Regions from separate parts of the Homo sapiens genome. Here region 2 is linked to region 1. The links come from fine-mapping of genetic effects on gene expression. Tissue or cell type: whole blood. Region 1 holds a variant in brackets; the other region holds the start of a gene. All regions are shown on one strand. Distances are from middle to middle.

Region 1 (8,101 bases):
GGCCTCTCTTTTTTGTTTTTTTTAACTGACCTATTTCAAAGCACTTTGCAGACATTTTTAAATGTCACCCCTACACCCTTCATCATGTATCTCCTAAGATTAAGGAGAGCTCTTCCAAAACCACAATACCCATACCGTCTTGCTTTGCTTTTCATTTCTTTTTCGAGATGGGATCTCATTCTGTCACCCAGACTGGAGTGCAGTGGCGCAATCTCAGCTCACTGCAACCTCCGCCTCCCAGGTTCAAACAATTCTCCTGCCTCAGCCTCTCGAGTAGCTGGGATTACAGGCACCTGCCACCATGCCTAGCTAATTTTTGTATTTTTAGTAGAGACAGGGTTTCGCCATGTTGGCCAGGCTGGTCTCCAACTCCTGACTTCAGGTAATCCACGTGCCTAGGCCTCCCAAAGTGCTGGGATTACAGGCGTGAGCCACCACGCCCAACCTGTTTTGTTTTTTAAATTCAAGATCTAATCAAGGATTAAACCTTGCATTTCGTTGTCTTGGGAAGCCAGAACCCAGACTGAATTGAATCCAGGTTAATGAACATTGCTAGCCCATGTGAAAACTTGCACAGGCCAGGCGCCTGGGGAAAGTGCAGTGCACCCTGAATCTCATTTAATCCTCAGAACGTTCTGCTAGGTGCCACTGCCCACATTTTATGGAGAGAGGTGGTGTCCTCCAGGCTGGAGTGCAATGGTGCAATCTCAGCTCACTGCAACTTCTGCCTCCTGGGTTCGAGATTCTCACTCCTCAGCCTCCTGAGCAGCTGGGATTACAGGCATGGGCCACCACGCTCAGCCAATTTTTGTGTTTTTAGTAGAGATGGGATTTCGCCATATTGTCCAGGCTGGTCTCGAATTCCTGACCTCAGGTGATCCGCCCGCCTCAGCATCCCAAAGTGCTGGGATTACAGGCCACCGCGCCTGATCCTAAATAATCATTTTTAAAATCAATCAATCCTTCCTTCCTCCTTCCTCCCTCCCCTGCCTTCCTTCTTTCCTTTCTTTCTTTCTTCCTTCCTTTCTTTCTCTTTCTTTCTTTCTCTTTTCTTTCTTTCTTTCCTCTTTCTTTCTTCTTTCTTTCTCTTTCTTTCTGTCTTTTCCTTCCCTCCCTCCCTCCTTCCCTCCCTCCTCCTTCCCTTCTTTCCTTCCTCTCTCCCTCTTTCTTTCTTTCTTCTTTCTCTGTCTTTTCCTTCCCTCCCTCCCTCCTTCTCTCTCTTTTTCCTTTCTTTCTTTCTTTCTTTCTTTCTTTCTGTCTGTCTCTTTTCCTTCCCTCTCTCCTTCCCTTCTTTCCTTCCTTCCTTTCTTTCTTCCTTCCTTCTTTCCTTCCTCTCTCCCTCTCTCTCTCTTTTTTCTTTCTTTCTTCTTTCTTTTTCTTTCTTTGTCTTTTCCCTGGCGCCTGGTGGCAGGCGCCTGTAATCCCAGCTACTTGGGAGGCTGAAGCAGGCGAACTGCTTGAACCCAGGAGGTGGAGGTTGCAGTGAGCTGAGATCGCACCACTGCACTCCAGCCGGGCGACAAGAGCAAAACTCCATCTCAATAAATAAATACATACATACATACATACATACATACATACATACATACATACATGTATACATACATACTATTGGAATCTAGCATGGAGGTTGCCACCCCCTTTTGCTGGTGTGGGGTGCAGTTCTGAGAGGCAGGGCAGACACCCATTGGGGCCTTTTGCTAAGGACCGAATTGTGTCCCCCTAGAATTTGTGCGTCAAACTCCAAATCCCCAATGTGATGGCGTTGGAGATTGGGGCCTTTCGGAGGTGATTAGGGTTTGATAAGGTCATGAGGGTGGGGCCCTCAAGATTGGATCAGTACCCTTATAAAAAGAGACACCAGGGAACTTCCTTCTACTCTCTCTCACCATGTAAGGACACAGTGAGAAGGCACCTGGATCTTGGACTTCCCAGTCTCCACAAACATAAGAAATAAATTCCTGTTGTTTAAGCACCCAATCTGTGGCATTTTATTTATTTATTTATTTATTTTAGAGCCAAGGTCTTGTTTTGTCACCTGGGCTGGAGTGCAGTGGTACCATCATGGCTCCCTGCAGCCTCAAACGGCTGGGCTCAGGGCATCCTCCTGCTTCAGCATCCCAAGTGGCTGGGACTACAGGTGCATGCCACCACGCTTAGCTATTTTTTTTTTTTTTTTAGAGATGGGGTCTTGCTATGTTGTCCAGGCTGGTCCTGAACTCCTGGGTTCAAGTGATCCTTCTGCCTCAGGCTTCCAAAGTGCTGAGATTACAGGTGTGAGTCATCACACCTGGCAATGGCATTTTATTATGGCAGCCTGAGCTGACTAAGGTAGACAGCAGGGAAAGAAGCTTCCATGCATTCCTCTTTGGGGAATCTGAACTTTCCAAGGCCTGCCTCCCTCCTCTGCAGGACGCTGGAACATGTTCAGTGATAGGTGGGCCTGAGGCTGTGCATCCCATGTCCCCAGAGCCTCTCTGTTGCTAGAAAATGTTCTTTCTTTCCTTGTGATTAAGGAGAAATCTGCCTTCCTGGGCCTCTCCACCCCTGGGGCCTGTCTCTACTACTCTACTATTTGGGTTTCTAGAACCCTCCCATCTCCTTTGGAGACATCCTCTTTCTTTTTTCTTTTCTTTTCTTTTTTTTTTTTTTGAGACAGATTCTTGCTCTGTCACCCAGGCTGGAGGGCAGTGGCACGATCTCAGCTCACTGCAACCTCCGCCTCCCAGGTTCAAGCGATTCTCCTGCCTCAGCCTCCCGAGTAGCTGGGATTGCAGGTGCCGGCCACCACGCCCAGCTAATTTTTTGTATTTTTAGTACAGATGGGGTTTCACCATGTTGGCCAAGCTGGTCTCGAACCTCTGACCTCATGTGATCCTCCCGCCTAGGCCTCCGAAAGTGCTGGGATTACAGGCGTGAGCCACCTCGCCCAGCCTCAGCCTTTCTCCTAATCATCACCTTGCCCTGGGCGGGTCCTAACTGCCGGGAGCCCCCAGCAAGCCTCATCTTAACAAGCCAGAACATAGCCCACATGAGGGGATGGGGGAGTGACTGGAAGTCACTGGGCCATGGTTGCAAAGGTGGCGAATGGCAGAGGAGCTGGGACACACCCACAGGGTGTCTGACCGTGATTTTAACTGCTCTTCCACGCCTCCGTGAATGAATGAATGAATGAACACATGTTCTACTACCAGACTTTGTTTTTCAGAAATATAGCAACCCTTTGGAAAAATCATAGGTCCTGTCACTAACAAGTTGAATTTAGTTATCAAGTCACTTTCTTGGTTAGAGAAGAGGAAAGGGGAGGAGGAGATGGGAAGAGGAGGAGGGAGGAGGGAGGATGAAGAAGCTCTGACGGGACCCAGTAGTGCAAGGCAGAGGGTGTCTCCGGAGGAAGCTTCCCTTCACTGTGGCAATTTCCTGAGGCTTGGTCTTGGCTTCTCGCAGCAAACAGGGTCTTCATCTGCCCAGCATCTGAACCCTAACCGCAGAGGGTTGAGAGACAGAGGAGGGGGCCCCCA[C/T]AGGGCCTGTGGTTTGAGTGAGGAAAGCAATTGTGTAAAAGTGGAGAGCCTTTCCGCAGCCCAGGGCCAGTCCCTGCCTGAGTCATGCTAGAGAGAGAGGGAGGAGCAGGCAGGATCCTGGAGCTCCCTGGATTTCAAGCTGGCCGTGGCCTCCCGGGTGACGTCACTGCGGTCATTGCCTGATGAGCTCAGGCAGAGGCGCCTGGGGACGGGGTAAGTGGTGAGAGGGAGGGCCACGGCTGTCTTGGGTGAACCCCAGGCTCCAGTTGGAGACTCTGCTGTGGCAAGAGGTCCACCCCACCCCCGGGCGCCATCTGGGGACACTCCGGCATCCCATTCCAATGGCTGTTCTGCCAGGGCCTCACCCTGGCTCTTGGTCTTAGGACTGCTGTGTTTGCCTGCCTAGGTGTGCGGGTCAATCTGTGCAGAGCTGGGGAGCAAGTGATCACTGGGAGCAAAGACAGCTTTCAGCCTGGAGGGAGAAGCATTTCTTCCCGCTAGGATAATGGCCAATTCAGAGGCCCTAGACCATGCTGTCCCCAGAGCCTGGGTGCATTGCTGATGACGAGATCCCAGCCGGGGGTCAGGCCTCCCAGGACTGTCAAGCTGGGCTGCTTGAGTCCCTGGCTCCAGGGGTGGGGGTGGGGCTGAATGGCAAGGGAGAGAGCTGGTCCATTCCAGGCTCCAACCTCAGAACCCTCTGGGAGTAAGATTACCCAGCCCTGTGCTCGGGCTGAGCAATCAACTATAGCGCACACGCTCCTTTACTGTGGTTCCGAGATAGTTAATTGAAATCTGGATACTCTGGGTAAAGTCAGAACATCCAGCTGGGCCCAGCATGGGAGATCAGCTTGATGAGTCTCCCGCACCCTATTCTGGGCATCAGCAGAGTCAGTTCTCTGAAGAGTCTTTTTCATATATATCACATAGATAGAGAGATAGGCAGGTTGGTAGGTAGGTAGATAGGTCAATAGGTAGGTAGGTAGGTAGTTAGACATAGGTATCTATCTATCTATCTATCTATCTATCTATCTATCTATCTATCTATCTATCTATCTATCTTACTGTAGTTTAGCACAGACATTGGTTAAGTCATGTCACTCCTCTGAACCTCAATTTTCTCATCTCTAAAATGGGGATATTAGGCCGGGCGAGGTAGCTCATGCCTGTAATCCCAGCACTTTGGGAGGCCAAGGCAGGTGGATCACCTGAGGTCAGGAGTTCAAAACCAGCCTGGCAAACATGGTGAAACCCTGTCTCTACTAAAAAATACAAAAAAAATTAGCCAGGTGTGGTGGCACGCACCTGAAGTCCCAGCTACTCGGGAGGCTGAGGCAGGAGAATTGCTTGAGACTGGGAGCCAGAGGTTGCAGTGAGCCAAGATCACACCATTGCACTCCAGCCTGGGTGACAGAGCAAGACTCTGCCTCTAAAAAATATAAAATAAAATAAAATAAAATAGAGATAATAATAGACCCACCTCCTAGGATTGCTACATGAGGGCAATGAACTGATCTACATAAAGCACCAAGCATAGTGTCTGGCAGGTAAAGTTGGCCAGTAATGTCATCAACATTGTTATATAATAATAATTATTGTCATTAATTTTATTGCCCAACTGGCGTCCCAGCCTGAGCTGAAGCTCTGTCTCTTGGCCACCCTGTCCAGGAGGTATGAGCCTGTTTTCTTGGGCCAGATCTTCTGCTTGGCTTGAAGCCAAAGTGTGACTTCCCAACCTCTGCATGCAGCCCCCTCCCCAGGGTGCTGGTTGGTCTCTCCTCTCAGCTGCTGCTGCAATGTGCTTCACAGTGACAACACACCCACAGCTCCAGTGGCAGTTGATGCATCCTTGTGGCCAGAATCATGCCTGGCAGGACGCATGTGGCAAAGGGCTTGTCTGGGTCGGTGCTATGCTCTCTGTGCCAGGGAAAATCCAGCTCTTGGAGTGGGTGAGAGCAGGGAGGCCTTCATGGTGGTGGAGTTAGGGGATGGGAGAGACAGGGAAGCAATGAGGGGCTTGCACAGAAAATATCGTTTTACCCTAAGTACCCAGATGACAAATGAGACCCAAAATGACCTTTGGCAGGGGCCGTGGCTTCTGGGGACCCCAGCGTTTGACAGAGCAGGTGGCAGAGCCGCAGGACCCAGCTCTAGTGTGTGGCAGTTTGTTGGTTTCATTGCCGTTGCTGGGCCAGACGTGCACTGAGGACCCCGGGATAAAGGGGTTTACTGTGAGGATGCTGGGGCCCAAGACCTCGTGGGCACAGGACCCAGGTGAAGACCCCAGGGCCCGTGAAGAGCCGAAGTGGATTTCACTGTAGGGGCTTCTTGTCATCCCCAGGGGTACACATTCTTGTGGCCGCTCCTGCTGCTGGCAGCCGAGTCCTTGGCCACGAGCCCAGCCTCCTCTGGGGGGTGGGTCTCAGCCCAGGCCCACATCGGGCTGTTGATTTCATTGGCTGCTGGCTGGCCTCGCCATTGGCTGCTTGCAGCCAGGTGCTCACCCCTGCCCATCAGCTGTGGCCATGGTGGTGCCAGCAGGGAGAGGAGCATGTGACTTGCACGTGAGGAGTAGCCGAAGGCTTCTTCCCTAGGGGACATGTGTCTACCTCGGGGCGATGCGTCTACCTGTGGATGGGGAGGGACCCCTTATTGGGGCCCAGGCAGGTCCGCATTCTGGGCCTTGTCCAGTACACCCTCTGGTTTCCAACCAGCCAACCAGGCTCCTGGGGGACCCACCAACCCTCCCCTTTCTTCTCCGTACTTCTCTCCTCACCTGGTAGACACACATGTCTTCATTTTGGTTCTTACGTTGAGAGACAAACCCATCCTTCCCTCCCTTTCTTCCTTCCTCCCTCCCTCCCTCCCTCCCTCCCTTCCTTCTCTCTCCCCTTCCTTCCTTCCTTTCTTTCTTTCTTTCTTTCTTTCTTTCTTTCTTTCTTTCTTTGTTTCTTTCTTTCTTTCCTTCCTTCCTTCTTTCTTTCTTTCTTTGTTGGTTTCTTTCTTTCTTTGTTTCTTTCCTTCCTTCTTTGTTTGTTTGTTTCTTTGTTTCTTTCTTTCTTTCTTTTTTCTTCCTTTCTTTCTTTCTCTCTGTCTCTCTTTCTCTCTTTCTTTTCTTTCTTTCTTGCACCTAGGTTGGAGTGCAGTGGCATGATCATGGCTCACTGCAGCCTCGACCTCCCAGCCTCAAGTGATCCTCCCTCCTCAGCCTCCTAAGTAGCTAGGACCACAGACATACACCACCATGCCTGGCTATTTTTTTTTTTTTTAACTTTTTGTAGAGACAAGATCTCCCTGTATTGCCCAGGCTGGTCTCAGACTCCTAAGGCTCAAGTGATCCTCCTGCCTCGATCTCCCAAAGTGCTGAGATTACAGGCATGAGCCACTGCACCCAGCCTGAGACAATGCTTTCTCTACCAGTCTCTACCCCATTGCACTAATAGTCAGTGGAAGGCTGCAGACCTTCACACGTGAGTCCCTGGCCCTGGGCCTCAGGCAGGGTTTGCTGGGTGTATGTTTACCCAATAGTTGTGGGAAAGTGGGTGCTGACCTCACCGGGTGCGGAGGACAGGGTGTTAAGCGGCTCCCACAAAACACTCCCTCCTCCTCGGGCTATGTTGGCAGAAGCACATCTAACCCTGGCGACCCAAGGTCATGAGGGGGATGAGTTAACTTCCTTGTGTGTCCTAAGCGGCTGCTGTGTATTTGTTGACTGTCTCAGAGTAAATGTGGTTGGTTTACTCACTTTCTACCCCTTTTAGCTGGTGGGACTGGTTAAAAGCTTGTCCTCTGCATAAAAGCTTTGCCTCTGGGATTAGCCTGGCCTGGTTGAGTCTCAGTTGTTGAAATAACAACAGCAATACCAATAGCAGTGATAGCTTACATGTAACACCAGGTATGATTTCCTACCTGGACTATCTCAGTAATCCTAGGAGGAAGGTCTATTATCATGTCCATTTTAGAGAAGGAAGAAGTGAGGCTCAGTATGGTGCTCAGCTAGGAAGCAGTAGAGCCTGGTGGTAACCAGGCAGGGGCTCAGAGCTTCTCTCCTTCCTGCTCCTTAGCTGATGGGCCATCGTGGGCAGGTTACTTGGCCTCTCCAGGACTCGGATTCCCCTTGTCTGCAAATGGGTCAAGAAAGTTTAATGTGGCTGGGTGCGGTGGCTCACACCTGTAATCCCAGCACTTTGGGAGGCCGAGGTGGGTGGATCATGAGATCAAGAGATCGAGACCATCCTGGCCAACATGGTGAAACCCTGTCTCTACTAAAAATACAAAAATTAGCCAGGTGTGGTGGCGCACGCCTGTAGTCCCAGCTGCTTAGGAGGCTGAGGGAAGAGAATCACTTGAACCTGGGAGGCGGAGGTTGCAGTGAGCCAACATCATACCACTGCACTCCAGCATGGTGACAGAGCCAGACTCTGTCTAAAAAAAAAAAAGGTTTAATGTGGCAGGGTACGCTGATTCACGCCTGTAATCCCTGCACTTTGGGAGGCCAAGGTGGGTGGATCACTTGAGGTGAGAGTTCGAGACTAGCCTGGCCAGCATAGTGAAACGCTGTCTCTCCTAAAAATACAAAA
Region 2 (8,101 bases), 25 kb after region 1:
AGATTCCTATCTTGAGATCATGTCCATCAGTTATACGAATTCCCCTACACAGTCTCTCCCCTATTTTCGGCTCAGGGTAGCGGGAGGTGATCGTCTGCTCTTTGCCCCAAGCTGGTTTTCCCAGCCTCTGCTTTCTATCTTGTTATTTCAGAAGACCAGTCAGGGAAGAGCCACTCTCCCTAGTCCAAGGAGGACAACCAAAGGGCCCCTCCTGGGCTGTGTCTGGTCCACGATTCTGGGGGTGGTACAGCCACCAGACCCCAACCTCATAGCTGAGCTTTTTGACAAGGAAGGTAGCTACCTGCAGGGGTTCCCACGGGCTGGGGGCGAGAGAGGCAGGGATTCTCTCTTCTCCGACAGAAATATCAGCCAGAAGCGAGCTTGCACAGCTCCTCCAACAGACAACCAGAGATAAAACGTGTCTCAGGGCATCTTGTACTTTCCATGTTCCGTCCCTGATGGTATGGTGACCTATCATTTATCTTGTGGGGCCGGGACAGCCTGGCCTGGCAGTTCCCCACGGGAGTCAGTTTATCAAGCACATCTTTTGTTCGGATAAAGGACTGCTTGGCACACAGCAAATGGGCAAGGCACCACCCCCACCTTGCTCACACCCACCTCCCCCAGCAACAAGGGCAGGGATTTCTATGAGTCTCCCTCCTGACAACCCTACTAGGTAGGGATCATTATTCCCTTTGAGCAGGAGGAAACGGAAGCTCAGAGGATGATACTGAACGGAGTGCCTACTTGTTCCAGGGGCTTCATAATTATTTAGCTCCCACAACTGCGCTGGGGAGTGACTTAGGGTCAGCTGCATTTTACAGCTGAGGAAACTGGTTCAGAGGAGGAACCTGCCTGCCTAAGGCCACACAGCTACAGCTGAGGGCTGGCTTTGGGATTCGAGGCTGGCTAAATCTAGCTCTGGCCAATCTTCCCTTTGATCTCTGCTGCTTTGGGGCATAGGTTGGACTGACACAGCTGTCTCTCTGGGCAGGTGCTGTCCCAAAGCACCTGGTCAAGCCCAAGAGTGAAGTAGGCATGGGAGACTGGTTTCTCCCTTTCCCCTTTGCCCCACTTCCCCAGGGCACCTCTCAGCAAAGCCAAATATGTTGGCGAAAATAAATGAGCAAGAACCGTGTACAAGATCCCTGCCCTTGGCCAGGTGCGGTGGCTCATGCCTGTAATCCCAGCACTTTGGGAGGCCGAGGTGGGTGGATCACAAGGTCAAGAGATTGAGACCATCCTGGCCAACATGGTGAAACCCCGTCTCTACTAAAAATACAAAAATTATCTGGGCGTGGTGGTGGGCACCTGTAGTCCTAGCTACTTGGGAGGCGGAGGCAGGAGAATTGCTTGAACCTGGAGGTGGAGGTTGCAGTGAGCAGAGATCACGCCATTGCACTCCAGCCTGGGTGATAGAGCAGGAGTCTGTCTCACAAGAAAAAAAAAAAAAGATCCCTGACCTTGTGGAGGTCCTGCCAGAACCCGGGGAAGCGGGCAGGATGCAGCAAGGTGAGGATTTTTTTTGAGACAGAGTCTCGGTCTGTCGCCCAGGCTGGAGTACAGTGGTGCAATCTTGGCTCACTGCACCTCCACCTCCCAGGTTGAAGCGATTCTCCCGCCTCAGCCTCCCAAGTAGCTGGGATTACAGGTGTCTGCCATCACATCTGGCTAATTTTTGTATTTTTAGTAGAGAGGGGATTTCACCACGTTGGCCAGGCTGGTCTCGAACTTCTGACCTCAGATAATCTGCCCCCCTCGGCCTCCCAAAGTGCTGGGATTACATGTGTGAGCCACCTGGCCAAGGTGAGGATTTTGAGGTGAGGGATTCAAAGAATCTTAGAAAACAAACGTTGATGCTTTCTTTCTTTTTTGAGACAGGGTCTTGCTCTGTCACCCAGGCTAGAGTGCAGTGGTGAGAACATGGCTCACTGCAGCCTCAGCCTCCTGGGTTCAGGTGATCCTCCCACTTCAGCCTCCTGAGTAGCTGGGAATACAGGCGAGCACCACCATGCCCAGCTAATTAAAACATTTTTTTGTAGAGACGGAGTCTCCCTATGTTGCCCAGGCTGGTCTTGAACTTCTGACTTCAGGTAATCTGTCCCCCTTGGCCTCCCAAGGGGCTGGAATTACAGGTGTGAGCCACCGCGCCCGGCCTGGTGATGCTTTCTACTGAAGAGTCAGTTGATAGGTCTTTCGGGGAGATCTTGTGATGAAGAATCAAAGCATTTGACTGGGGAAAGAGTTCCAGGATAGTCAAGTGATGCTCAGGAAGTCAGTGGAGCCACGTGCTGGTTCCCCATCCCTGCTATAGCAAATTACCACAGACTTAGTGGCTTAAAACAACACAGCTTCATTCTCTGACAGTTCTGGTGGATGAAGCCTGAAATGGGTCTCACAGGGCTAAAATCAAAGTGTCGGGAGGGCTGCGTTCTGTCTGAACGCAGAGAGTTTGTTTCGTCCCCTTTTCCAGTTTCTAGAGGCCCCTGGTATTCCTTGGGCCATGATCTCTCCTTCATCTTCAAGGCCAGCAGGTTAGCGTCTCTCCTGTCTGACCCCTATTCTGTCCTTTCATCTCCTCTCTTAATGCTGCCTCTGTTTTTATATCTTTTCTCTAATTTTACTGCCTCCCTCTTGGAAGGGCCCCTCTGTATACTCTGGGCTCACCCAGATAAACTAGGATAATTTCTCCCATCTCAAATCCTTACGAAATCCCATGTGAAAAGTCCCTTTTGCCACATAGTCACAGTCACGGGTTCTAGGGATTGGGACATGGATGTCTTTAGGGGTGGAGGGCGTCCTTCAGCCTGCCACAGATGGCAAAGTCATGCCATTGTGGCTGCAGCTCCATTGTCCAGGCTGAGTGTGGGGGCGCATGGCGTGGTTCTCATGCCCACCACCTACCCTGACCCTGCGGAGGTGGGCAGGAGGCAGCGATAATCACCACGTGCAGAGGTCCTGCCAGGTGCCCAGCCTCATCATTCCCTAGAAGGCAGGCACCACCACATGCTCCCACACTGTAGATAAGGAAACAGCTTTGAAACAGATTTGAAAGTGTTTGAGGATTTGCCTGGAAGGAGGGCTCCAGAGCCAGGGACTGGGTCCGGGACACCCGGAGACTCTCTGCTTCTTGGAGCTCCGGCAACTGCTTGTCTTTCTCTTCACAGGAGAAGGGGGCCCTGCTGCCGCTGCCGTGGGGCGGGGCGTGGGCGGTGCTGGCTGCAGGAAGGCTCTCCCCTCCCACTTTGTGCTTTCCCTGCAGGCTGCTCCTCTGTCGAGCTGATCACACCCACAGTTGAGCTGCGCTGGCCAGAGATGCCTGCCCACAGCCTGGTGATGAGCAGCCCGGCCCTCCCGGCCTTCCTGCTCTGCAGCACGCTGCTGGTCATCAAGATGTACGTGGTGGCCATCATCACGGGCCAAGTGAGGCTGCGGAAGAAGGTATGTGCCTCCCTGGGGGTCCCCGGCCTGGGTCATACTTGCTTCTCTCCACGTCCTGTCAGGAAAGCCCCGGGATAGGGAAACATGGCCAAGGTGTGTGCAGGGCTGGGAGGTGAGCACCTCTTCCAGCCCCGCCGGGGGGCTTCCTGCCAGTCCCACGTGTCAGCAAGGCCTGCACCTTCTCCTCTCTGGCTTAAGAGCACTTACTCGCTTGCCGTGCCACCGGGCTGAGTTCTTGGCATGGAGAGAGCCAGCGAGTGTCTGTGAGAGAAGCAGGTTCTGGAGGGTGGAGTGTGGGAGCGTGACAGCACAAAGCCTCTGTCTAACCTGGTGGCTTCCCGGCACGGGAGGTCTGATATCTGGGTGGAGTGGGAACCGGCAAAACAGGAGTCCGAGAAACGTTTAAGTGGAAATTCCCAACTCCTGGCAAATGTCACTAACAAGCCCACTGTAGCCTCCAAAGGCCAGCTCCCAGCCGGGCACCGTCGGGGTGCTCAGCGAGGAATTTCCCCACTAATCCGAGCCCCTGAACCAAAACAACATTAACGAGTCCCAGAGCTGGGCCGGGGCAAGTTCCAGTAGCGTCCGTCACACTGGTTGGCGAGTCTGCAAAGTCATAGGCTGAGCTTGTCGGCTGTCCTGGCGGCAGAATGCAGAAAGACCCCAGGCACCTGTTACTTCCTCCCCAGGTATTTTAATAAAGCAATCATTTCCTGAAACTGTCTCTGTCTTCCCCTGTGTCCAGTTCAAAGGCGAGGTGAGGCAAGGCTGGCTCTGGCACTGCATGCGGGTGGATCCTGGGGAGTGAGGATCTTGGCCACAAGCCAGGCTCAGGCCCTGCTGCAGGTACAGGCAGGATTAAAGGCAGGGCAGCTGCCCAAGTGATAGGATGCCCGGAGGCTACAGCACACTGATAGCTTCTGACTTCTCCCTGCCTTGGCTGGTCCTGGGATATGGGATCCGGGCATCAAGTAGAACAGCTGCATTCACTCATTGAATCCTTCCCAGAGGACCGAATGTGGCCCGGAGCTGAGCATGAGATCCCCGCCACAGCCCTGAGGGCAGGGGAGGCGCCATAGTCATCCTGTTTTCTAGGTGAGGAACCTGGGCTCAGAGAGGAGACATCACTTATGAAGGTCACACAGCCCGGTTTGAACTCCAGTGTCCAGCTTCAGAGCCCACATCCTGTCTTGGAGGCGGGGGTTTCTGTTTTGTTTTTTTTTTCTGCTGTCCAGGCTGGAGTGCAGCGGCATGATCTCTGCTTACTGCAACCTCCACCTCCTGGGTTCAAGCAATTCTACTGCCTCAGCCTCCCCGGTAGCTGGCATTACAGACACACACCACCATGCCCTGCTAATTTTTGTATTTTTAGTAGAGATGGGGTTTCACCATGTTGGCCAGGCTGGTCTTGAACCCCTGACCTCAGGTGATCCACCCGCCTCAGCCTCCCAAAGTGTTGGAATTACAGGCGTGAGCCACCGCACCTGGCTGAGGCCTGGGTTCTTACCAGCAGGCCAGCGATTCCTTTTTTTTTTTTTTTTTTAATTATTATTTATTTATTTTAGAGACAGGGTCTTGCTCTGTGGCCCAGGCTGGAGTGCAATTGTGCGATCATAGCTCACTGTAGCCTCGACTTCCTGGGCTCAGGTGATCCTCCCACTTCAGCCTCCCAAGTAGCTGGGACTATAGGTGTGCGTCACTGCTCCTAATTTTTTATGTTTTTGGTAGAGATGGCTTTTGCCATGTTGCCCAGGCTGGTCTCAAACTCCTGGGCTCAAGTGATCCTCCCATCTTGGCCTCCTGGAGTTCTGGGATTACAGGTGTGAGCCACTGTGCCCAGCTGTGATTTCCTTTTAACACGAATTCGGGGAAGGGAGGAGGTGAACCTGTCCCAGAGCCTTTCTGCCTGATTGGCAGGGACACCGCAGAAGGAAACCCCCACTCCTTGGGCTGCTCCTGAGGTGTTCCTCATGACAACGTGGCCCCCTCTTATCTCTGCTCTGGGCGCTAAGTATCATCCAGGAAGGACTTGCTGGAGGTGACAGTCACAGGCCCTGGCTCCTCCACCCACCAGCCTGGGGACCTGGAAAAGTCTGGGAGCTCAGTGTCCTCACCTGTAAACGGGGGTCGTGACAGCAGCGCCAGGAGAATGCAACGCCCCACCAATGTTTGTCCTTAAGACTTATAAGTAACTGAAATTAACATGAGCATCGCAGCCTCAGGTCACTTTCAAGGGACCTCAACCAAAGGCTGGCCTCCACCCCAGCTAAGGTGGCACCTCGGCCGCTGACACTGGGGGCTTCCTGGCCTGCACTGCAGCTGGCTCTGGCCTGGCTGACTTGTATCTGAGTTGTATCTCCAGGGGGAGCAACTCCATGGGCAGTGGACTCCTAAAGGCAGTGCCCACTGTATGCTGAGGCCCCTTGAAACGTATCACAGATCCACGGACAGAGCCTTCGGTGTTGGTGATTCACTGATTTCAGGGCCAGCAGAGAGGAATTTTGGGTGTGAAGGTTCCAATCTCGAAGATCTGAGCTGCATTCTCCTCTGGGGTAGGGCAGGGCAGGCCCACCAGGGAGGACAAACCAGCCCTTGGGGGACAGTCATGAGTCAGAAGCACAGGATTTGCCGTCAGCTGAACAATTTAGAAAACCTGCTCCTGAGATTCAGGCTCTGCTGTGGGCCTGGTGGGGTCTGACTGTCTGGATGCCAGCAGGGAACAGTGGAGCAAGAGTCATGGGCCTCTGATGATCTCAGTGTGACTTTATGTCTCTGCTTTCCAATGAGAGAAAGTGACAATTCACTGAGCACCTCCTTGTGCTGGGCATTGTCCTAGCGGCTTCTCCAGGTCTCCCTCTCACTCGTCACACAGCACATGAGCTGTGATTTCTCCTGAGTTTTCAGAGTTCAGGATCCTGTGGTTAATCAGCGCGGAGCTGGGTTTTCAGCCTGGGGCTCTCAAGACCTTCTCATGGCTTTTAGTGCAAAGTCCAAATTCTTCAGGTGCTGCCAGGACCCCTGATGACCCCTGTCCCTTTATCTTGGGCCCCTGTCCCTTGCCCTCTGTGCTCCCGTGTGCTGGTTTTCTGTTCTTCACACATGCCCAGCTTCTTCCAGCCTCAGGGCCTTTGCACGTGCTGTCCCTTCTGCCTTGAATGTTGTTGCTCCAGCCCTCCCTTCATCTGGTTAATGTCAATGCATCTTTCAAGCCTCAGATTGTTTGTTTTATTTTTTTTGGAGACAGAGTCTGGCTCTGTTGCCCAGGCTGGAGTGCAGTGGCAAGATCACGGCTCATTGTAGCCTCGACCTCCCAGGCTCAAGCAATCCTCCTGCCTCAGCCCTCCTGCCAAGTAGCTGGGACCACAGGTGTGTATCACCACACACAGCTAATTTTTGTATTTTTTATAGAGGGGGTTTCATCATGTTGCCCAGGCTGGTCTTGAACTCCTGAGCTCAAGTGATCCAACTGCCTCGGCCTCCCAAAGTGCTGAGATTACAGACATCAGCCACTGTACCCAGCTTGTTTGTTTGTTTTAGAGATGGGGTCTTGCTATGTTGCCCGGGTTGGTCTCAAACTCCTGGAAGCTCAAGCAATCCTCCTATCTTGGCTTCCCAAAGTGCTTGGCTCACAGGCGTGAGCCACCACACCTGGCTTGTTTTAGAGATGGGGTCTTGCTATGTTGCCCAGGCTGGTTTTGAACTCCTGGGCTCAAGCAATCCCCCTGCCTTGGCCTTCCGAAGTGCTGGGATTACTGGTGTGAGCCACCTCATCCAGCCCTAAGCCTCAGCTTTCATGTCACTGCCTCAGAGAAACTTTCTCAGAGCCTCAGACTGGGTCAGGTCCCACGTAAACATTCTCAAGGCCAGCCGTGCCTTCTTCTTAACAGGTGAGACACCCTGGCCTTCCCTGGTTCATAGGCAACTCCCCCATCGGACTGTGAGCTTCATAAAAGCAGAGACAGGGGGGCCTTTTCATGGTGAGCTACCAGCCCCTGGCACAGGGTAGGAATCGTGGATGATGGTTGGATGGGTGTGTGTGCAACTGCACCTCTGTCCTGCCACTGTGAACTCTGGTCATGGACAAAACATAGCCCCAGGTGACTGGGCCGTTTGTCTCACGAGGAGTGACTCTCAACTGGTATATTTCAGGCCTTTGCCAACCCCGAGGATGCCCTGAGACACGGAGGCCCCCAGTATTGCAGGAGCGACCCCGACGTGGAACGCTGCCTCAGGCAAGTACTTCGGGCCCCTGGCCTGGCCACACCTGGCCATGGCCTGCCCTTTCAGAACTTCTTCTGCACACAGGGGACTTGGAGGACTCCCAGGGGCTGAGGTTTTCTGTGTTCCTGATCTTCTCTGACTGTTTTACTTTATTCAATGATTTAATTTCAAATGAACTTTGGAAAAGTAAGACGTGGTCATGACTCATAATTACAAAGTGAGAAAGGTGGTGACTTCAGTGAACATTCAGTCTCCCTCCTACCTCTGACCTCCAGGCACTACGCAGTTCTACTGGCCAGGGGCAAACACTCCTGCCAATGGCCATGCATCTTCCCACAGAGATTTGCTGCATTTACAAACATGTGTGCCACGCTTTTCCCGTTCTGCCCCATAGAATCACCCTTTATCCTCTGGTCTGTACTATGCTTTTTTTTTTTTT

What was found. PIP is the estimated chance that this variant, and not a neighbour inherited with it, causes the effect.
Region 2: PTGES starts here. The variant in region 1 is fine-mapped to the expression of PTGES in whole blood (TOPMed, PIP above 0.99).

What each region holds. Positions count from the first base shown.
Region 1 is chr9:129,772,852-129,780,952 of GRCh38, reverse strand. No RefSeq gene overlaps it. Among named protein-coding and RNA genes, the nearest start is that of PTGES, 24 kb to the right of the region's middle. RefSeq lists enhancers at 3,489-3,783, 3,414-3,929, 5,321-5,887. The variant C/T (reference allele first, on the strand shown) is at 3,522.
Region 2 is chr9:129,748,227-129,756,327 of GRCh38, reverse strand. It overlaps PTGES (prostaglandin E synthase), which reads left to right and starts at 3,286. Exons shown (of 3, transcript NM_004878.5): 1 at 3,286-3,441; 2 at 7,591-7,673. The coding sequence starts at 3,316.